Regions from separate parts of the Homo sapiens genome. Here region 1 is reported to be linked to region 2. The links are microRNA targets in miRTarBase. Many come from high-throughput screens and were not tested one by one. Region 2 holds a microRNA gene; the other region holds the end of a gene's coding sequence.

The links. The annotated mature microRNA hsa-miR-767-5p reads UGCACCAUGGUUGUCUGAGCAUG and lies in region 2 at 1,729-1,751, opposite strand. An mRNA with a match to its seed (bases 2 to 7 or 8) in the 3' UTR can be bound and repressed. Matches are read on the target gene's strand: a 7mer-m8 pairs with bases 2 to 8, a 7mer-A1 pairs with bases 2 to 7 and ends in A, and an 8mer does both.
Region 1: the mRNA of MCF2L2 is a reported target of hsa-miR-767-5p. The part of its 3' UTR that is shown has no 7-base or 8-base seed match.

The regions. Positions count from the first base shown.
Region 1 is chr3:183,175,945-183,179,944 of GRCh38, forward strand. MCF2L2 (MCF.2 cell line derived transforming sequence-like 2) reads right to left here. Exons shown (of 30, transcript NM_015078.4): 29 at 3,633-3,748; 30 at 2,097-3,559. The coding sequence ends at 3,436. Among named protein-coding and RNA genes, the nearest start is that of LAMP3, 15 kb to the left of the region's middle. RefSeq lists a silencer at 3,317-3,406.
Region 2 is chrX:152,391,753-152,395,905 of GRCh38, forward strand. It overlaps MIR767 (microRNA 767), which reads right to left and starts at 1,777; the gene lies at 1,669-1,777. All of the region lies in intron 1 of GABRA3 (gamma-aminobutyric acid type A receptor subunit alpha3), which reads right to left. It overlaps MIR105-1 (microRNA 105-1), which reads right to left and starts at 547; the gene lies at 467-547. MIR105-2 (microRNA 105-2) reads right to left here and starts at 2,740; the gene lies at 2,660-2,740.

The DNA.
Region 1 (4,000 bases), not on the chromosome of region 2:
GGGCAGGGGAATGCTCAGGAAATAGATATTGAATAAAATAAGTGTATCCATCCATCCATCCATCCATCCTTCCATCCATCCAGACATATATACATATGTAAACATTCTGATGGTCAAATGGAACAATGTGGGCTGAAGAATAATGCAGGTAGAAGAACCTAAGATTACAGATTCTTGATTTGGGAGGAACTTTATTTTATTGTGCAAACAGTCTACAAATTTGAAACATACTCTATCAAGAAAGACACTGTTGTTAGGAAAGGGCGTGGGAGAGGGTGGCCCCACAAAACAGTGTAAAGTTCTAAAGAATTTGAGAGGAACACTCTGCGGGACCCTGTTCCAAGGGCATCTTTCTAAGAGTCTGTCCCTTAGGCTCTGCCCCTTTTTGGCCACGTTGTCAAAGGCCTTCTTTATGAACGAAGTGAGACACATTATTTTTGTTTTCTTGAATTCTAAAGTGATTGTCTTGAGTTCCCTGGGGGAGACTCCTGGGAGGTGTGGCCCACTCTATTCCAGAAACAAACCAGGAGACTGAAGACTCATCCCAATCCCATATCCCATGAAAATGTGAAATCAAATCACCCCTGACAATTCCAAAACTAACGGAATCCTAACATAACTCTATGTAACTCTAAAGCTGAGTGTGCTGGTAATTAAGCTTCCAGCCCACCCTTCCCAGCTCTGGGGTGCAGGGTCACCATGGGCTCCTTCCTGTGTGCACCCCACCCCACCCCCACTGTCAGCATCCTGTCTCCACCCTGAGAGTGACAGCTGGTTCCAGTAGCGGGAGTTGGTTCCAGCTTGCCATTTTCCTAGCACTCCTATAACCAGCCTGCTGATGCCCATTCAGAGACAGCAGCACGGGCTGGCCATGTCCCCTCTCCAGAATTCTGCGTCCAGCTCCTGGACCTTGAGCTCTGAGCCCTTGGGCCACGTGTACAATTAATAGTGCCTCCTCCTCAGAGGACTAACCCCCAGCCCTAGGGCCACCTTCATATTTCTGAGTTTTGATATTTTCAACCTCTTTTCTTTGTTGTATGAGTCCTTGGGCTGGGAGCTTGCAGTCAAAATCTTCATGATATCTCATTATCACTACTTTTTTTTAAATCTCTACTAGCTGGATAACAATTATTTATATTAAATTCTCTCTTGAAATAACTGATACAGTGTCTCTTGATTGAAACTTGACTAGTAGACTAAGAATTCTAACTCTAAATAATTCTGAGGGCCGGGTGTGGTGGCTCACACCTGTAATCCCAGCACTTTGGGAGGCCAACGCGAATGGATCACCTGAGGTCAGGAGTTGGAGACCAGCCTGGCAAACATGGCGAAACCCGGTCAGGAGATCCAGACCATCCTGGCTAACATGGTGAAACCTCATCTTTACTTAAAAAAAAAAAAAAATACAAAACAAAATTAGCCAGGCGTGGTGGCAGATGCCTGTAGTCCCAGCTATTCAGGAGGCTGAGACAGGAGAATAGCGTGAACCCGGGAGGTGGAGCTTGCAGTGAGCCGAGATTGCACCACTGCACTCCAGCCTGGGTGACAGAGAGAGACTCCGTCTCAACAACAACAACAACAAATTAGCCGGGCATGGTGGCAGGTGCCTGTAATCTCAACTACTTGGGAGGCTGAGGTAGGAGAATTGCTTGAACCCGGGAGGCGGAGGTTGCAGTGAGCCAAGATTGCGGCACTTCACTCCAGCCTGGGTGACAAGAGCAAAACTCCATCTCAAAAAAAAAAAAAAAGAAAAAAAAATCTGACAATTAAATAAAGAACAGAAAAAAAATTTGAATGGCAAATACAAAGCTGAAAAGAAATAACTGAGAATAAATAACTCTGAAAATAGCTCAAAAACTAAATACCTCAAAAACTCTTTAAAAATTCAGAAAATATAATGTTCAAATATGAAGTAATGCTGAAAATGAAATAACTAAAAACCAAGTAACTTGAAAAAAAGAACATAAAAATAAACAACTCAAATATAAAATAACTGAAAATAAATACCTGTGAACATAAGCAACTCGAAAACCAGATAACTAGGGGAAACCCTTCATTAAAACATTTCACTCTGAAAATAAATAACTTGACAGTAGTTCATGAACTTCCAGTGAGTGTTTAATAGTCAAATAAGTTACTGTAAAAATAAATAACTCAAAAACTCCAATAAGATAAAGTGAAATAACTATGAAGGTAAATAACTCAGATAATAATTGTAAAGATAATTAAAAATAAATTCCGGCTGGGCGCGGTGGCTCACGCCTGTAATCCCAGCACTTTGGGAGGCCGAGGCAGGGGGATCACGAGGTCAGGAGATCGAGACCATCCTGGCTAACACGGGGAAACCCCGTCTCTACTAAAAATCCAAATAAAAAATTAGCCGGGCGTGGTGGCGGGCGCCTGTAGTCCCAGCTACTCAGGAGGCTGAGGCAGGAGAATGGCGTGAACCCGGGAGGCGGTTTGCAGTGAGCCGAGATCACACCACTGCACTCCAGCCTGGGCGACAGAGCGAGACTCCGTCTCGAAAAATAAATAAATAAATAAATAAATAAATTCCAAGCAAATTAATTTGAACATCTGTAACTCCTAAAACAAAACAACTACATATAAATAACTGAAAATGAACAACTAAATAACTTTGAAAATAAAGTAACTATAAACCAGTAACTGAAACTATAAAATTAAATAACCAGAAAGCTACAAAGAAATGAAAATCAACTAATAAAACTAAAAATAAAATACAACTGAAACTAACAAAACTCATTTAAAAACTAATAAATCGATACATAAAATACCTCAGAAAGTAACTTGGAACGAACTCTCTCTACAACGAAGCAATCTTGGCACTAACACGAACACCCCATGAACGCTCGCAGGGATGCTGGGAGGCGGACCGGGAGCTCCCAGTCTGCGGCCCCCGCCGGGTTGGAGCGGCTCCGGCTCCTCCAAGGCTCGGGCTAAGCGGCTCTCAACCGATTCCCACCCCGCCCTGGAGAAATGCGGGCGTGTCTGCAGGCATTTTTGATTGTCACGATTTGGGGGCGGGGTGGAGGATGGGGTGGCGCATTCCTGGCACCTAGTGGGTAGAGGCCAGGGGTGCTACTAAACATCCTACCGTGGGAGCACAGAGAAGCCCACGCAGCAAAGAATTGCCCGGCTCCGAATATCGAAGTGCGCGGTCGAGAAGGCGTGGGCTGCGGGCTCTGCTCGCCTCTGCAGGCGCCTTAGAGCAGCTCCGAGGTCCCCCGTGCGGAGCTAGGCGCGCACCCAGGACACCCCTCGGGCTCCTCGGAGGAGGCCCTGGTTGTCCCCTTTCTGCCGCCGCCGAGGCTCCGGCTGCTTTCTGCGTAGCTGGGCAGGGCCCGGGCCCCCACACCGCCTCTCCCGGGAATGCGGGCGCTCTGGAGCCGAGGAGCGGGGGCGTCCGCAGGGAGGTCAGCTCTCCTGGGCGGAGGTCCTCGGGCGCAGCGCCCTCGCCTGGAAACCAGCCGTCGCCCCCGCAGGAGCCAGCCGGCCCGTGGACGCCCCAGCGCGCTCCTCCTCGGTGCTGCGGGTCGCCCTGCAATTCCGAGAAGAAAGTCAGAGACGCCGTGGCCCAAAGAGGCGCTTAGTCTTTCCTCGCTCACACTCACGTTTCCTCCTCATCGCGTTCTTCTTTTTCTCCCTGGCTGCTTTCTCCCCTCTCCAGGAAAGCAGATTTGGAGGAACAGGTTTCGTGACTGTCGTCCGACTGGAAAAGGCCCGCGAGCTGGAAGGGAGGGGACGGGTGCACCCTCAGAGTTATTGCTGGAGGCTGTGGCCAGACCGGGCAAGGTGGTGACTCCCGCTGGCAGGCTGAGGCCCACCCCAGCCCTCCCACCTGGGCCACGGGGCTCTCAGCGGGAGCCCCAGTTATGACCGGACACCAGCGCACCGCCAAGGAGACAGCCACGTGGGGACATGCTGGACTAGGAGGGTCAGAGCCAGTTTGAGGGTCTGGTGACCTCGGCTCCCTGGCTTA
Region 2 (4,153 bases):
CCAAGGTATAACATCAGACGACCATGCTGAATGGACAGCCACCACCAGTAATTTAGCATGTGACTAAGGTACACAACCAGACATTCTCAGAATGCAAGCTAAAAGTCATGATAAAGAATAAAGAGACATAATACAAATAATATAACAATATCAGCAAATACTTATCATTTATATGTGTCAGGCACTAATCTAAGCATTCTACATGTGCATCTTTGAATCCTCACAACTCTATGAGGTATTATTATTTATTTTACAGTTTAGAAAACAGAAACAGAAGGGTGAAATGACTTCCTCAAGAATTTCAAACTATTAAATAGGAGAACTGGGATTTAAGTCCAAGCAGTGAGCATTGTGCACATACACTGATGGTGCCATGCTTCCTCATATGGATGTGATACAAGATTAGAAACACAGAGCACAGGAACAAATGGCTTTGGTCCAGAAGCAGACGGCAATGTAGCAAAAGTAGACACCGTAGCACATGCTCAAACATCCGTGGTGCATGAGCAGCCACCACAGGAGTCTGAGCATTTGACCACGATGCACACTCAGGTTCTGCAACAGAAGCTGACATCCAATATATAGGAGTAGATACTGAGGACGAAGAAGGAGGCAAACACACTGTATGACAAAAAATCATGGTGCACAAAATTATATTCATGGTACAGAAAATTCCATTTTTAGTACAATGTAGACAACGATGGTGCATTTTCACAAATCATGATGAATGAGCAGAAGACCATAGCTAAAGGGCATAAGCACATTCATACAACCATGGAAAATTAGCCAGGGCTCACTTAGAGCCAAGAGACATCTTATGAGAAAATAATCATAAGTGGAGACCTCATAGATGGATATAGTACAAGATCAAAACATCTCAATACATGAATGATTATTTCAAATGTAGGTGGCAAAGGTGCATAGAGGACCCACCGTGTAACATGTTCAGACAAAAGTTGATGAAAGCCATTAGTGATATTTGACTGTTTGATCTTGACTTACACAGGTACACAAAAGTAGTTTACACTATTACGTAGCATTTATGCCAAAGGAGCTAAGAGGCATAGATAGATACAGCACACAAACTTGTTTTCGGAGAATAAAACCATGCTGTGGTGCTTACTTAGACAGATATTGTGCCTTATACAAGAGCCACGGTACAGGGGTAAACAGCTTTGTCCATGAGTAGATGTCAGATATGTCAAAAGAGACCTGACACCATATACTCAGATGACCATTGCATGAACAGCCACCACTAGTATTTGGGCATTTGACTATGATGGCTACCTACACAATCCCACGACATAAAGTAAAAGAATGATACAGGAGCAGGTAGACATGAAACCATGATTACCAAAACGGATATGGTTGGTGATTAAAAATCATTATTTTCTTTAGTCTGGGAGAAGATGGCAATGATTAAACGGGTGAAGTTATGATATATGCTGAAACAGCCATGTTGCATGAACAGCCATCACATCATAGGCATTTAAGCATTTGACTGATGTACAATTAGAAAGCCCAGTGACATGAGATAACATCTGTCTTTTTGGAACAGATAAACAATGTGCAGAAAAAGGCAGAAGTGATCTAAGAGTAGAGAGTCATAGAATATGAGTAAATACTAAACTCATATACACGATGCATAAAACACTATTTCCCTGTAAAGCAGTAGACAATGAAGGTTCCTGCTCAGAAACCATGGGGTATGAGCAGACAAGCATGCTGCATGCTCAGACAACCATGGTGCATGAGCAAAAACCTACAATATAAAAGCAGGTGGGTGTGATACAAGAGTGAATAACACAATGAGGAATATGCCCAGATGGACAGGACATATGAATAAAGGAAACATAACACATGAATACAACTTATTTAGGCAAACAGCATATGACAATGATGCTGGAGGAGATATCATGGCACATACTCAGGCAATCATGGTGCATGAGCAACTAACACTAATATTTGACTGTTAAACCACGATGTACACCCAGATATCCCAACAAAAATAAGCTGATGACCATAATATAGGAGCAGATGAACAAGGATATTGAAGAAGATGCTGATAATAAAATAGCAGAAAACGATAGTGCAGTAGCTAATAGAATACTACAGATGGCAACGATTCAAATGACTGCCATGGCATATACTTATATAATGATGCTTTAAACACTATCACAAGTATCAGCATTTGACCATAATGCACACTTAGAGAACTCCAGAATTTGAGCTGACAATTATTATACACGATCAAGGGACACAGTATCATTATCATCATTGTCATGTCATCATCATCATCATCATTGTTATCATCATCATCACTACCTGCCAGGCAGTATTAAAAATATTTTATGTATAATAGCTTATACAATCCTCACAATAACCTTACTACTTTTTTTGTCATTTTGCAGGAAACTGAAGCATGAAGATACGAATTGATGTGTCCATTTCATGAACTGATGTGTCCAAGATCTCATAGCTAGTAAGTGGATAATCCAGGATTCAAATTCAGTCATTTTGGCTCCACTATCCATTATTGTAAATATGACAATAAATGACAATATGCTGTGATTCTTCTGACAGACATGATACCAGATTTTAAAACAGAGCAGAAAAATGAGTGGCTTTGTTCCAGAAGCAGATGGCAATGTTGCAAAAGTAGACACCATAGCACATGCTCAAACATCCGTGGTGCATAAGCAGCCACCACAGGAGTCTGAGCATTTGACCACGATGCACACACAGAAGATCTGCAACATGAGCTGATACCAGGTTATAGGGAGTAGACAGATGACAAAGGACAGAGAAAACTCATCACAATAGTGAAAGACATGGTGTAGAAATTAATATACATAGTACAAAATACTCATTCCCAGTACAAGTAGACAATGATTGTGTATTTTCACACAAGTGTGGTGTTTAAGTTTAAATACGTAGTACAACTTCAATCACAGTATATGAGCACAAATTCATTATGTATGTTTATATTATCATGGAGAATAGGTCAATTCATACATGAAAAAGGGGATAGATATGGTATCCCAGGAAAGAATCACAGAGTAAAAACTGCTCAGGTGATACAAAAAATACGGGTATGTATGGCATTTTGTCAAAAAGAAGATCAAAATAATACAGGATGTTCAGATGAATAAGATGCCAAAAAGCATGTTTTAATATGTGTTCATGAGGTCCAGTCAGACACCTACAGGACATAGGCTATCAATTATGACACAGGTGCAGATGGACATGATATGGAAATAAAACATGGTGTGATTCTTACTTGGGTAGATATGGTATGTAATCAAAAATAACCATGCAAGCAATTAATGACTTTGGCCCAAGAGAAGATGACAGTGGTACAAAAAAAAGACTCACATGGACATAATGACTCATAAAAAAAATAACCATGGTGATTGACTCTACACATTTGTGTTTGGGCATGATATAAATCCAAACGATCCCATTACACAAACTAACAGCTATGATACAGTTAGTAAGCATGATACAGGAACAGACAGCAAATATGGAGAAAATACCCATTCTGCAGGAGCCAGTGACCACAATTCAGGAACTAATATTCATGTTATTAAAGTTATCATTCTCCACACAGAAGGAGATTATGTTTATTTTTTACACATTAATGATGGGTGAGCAATATCTATGATGTATACACAGAGAATCAATTAGTATACACATAAAATACACAAGCAGTTGGCTATCCTTCAGGAGTGGTATCCATTCAGACGCATGTCCCTATCCGATATCCACAATACTGAATCAAGTTTTCAGTTAAGGATAAGATGACAGTGGTGCAAAATGACACCTCATGCCATATGCTCAGATGGCTCTTTTGTTTGAGCATCTGATCATGGTGCACAACTTAACAACCATAAAATGTGAGGTAATGAATGATAATAGAGAAGACTATATCCCAAGACTATATCGCTGTAAATACGCAAAATACAGGAACAGTTGGATATAGTACAAGAGCAAAAAGCAATGTTGAAGTAGGAGCCCGACATGACTGATATATGAGCTAGTAACATGCTGCACAGTGTGATAACCATGACATAGAAGTTGGTCAATCACAGATCAATCTCAAACATCAGTGATATATGAACAGAGAACTAAGCTGTAGTGCTTCCTCGGATGA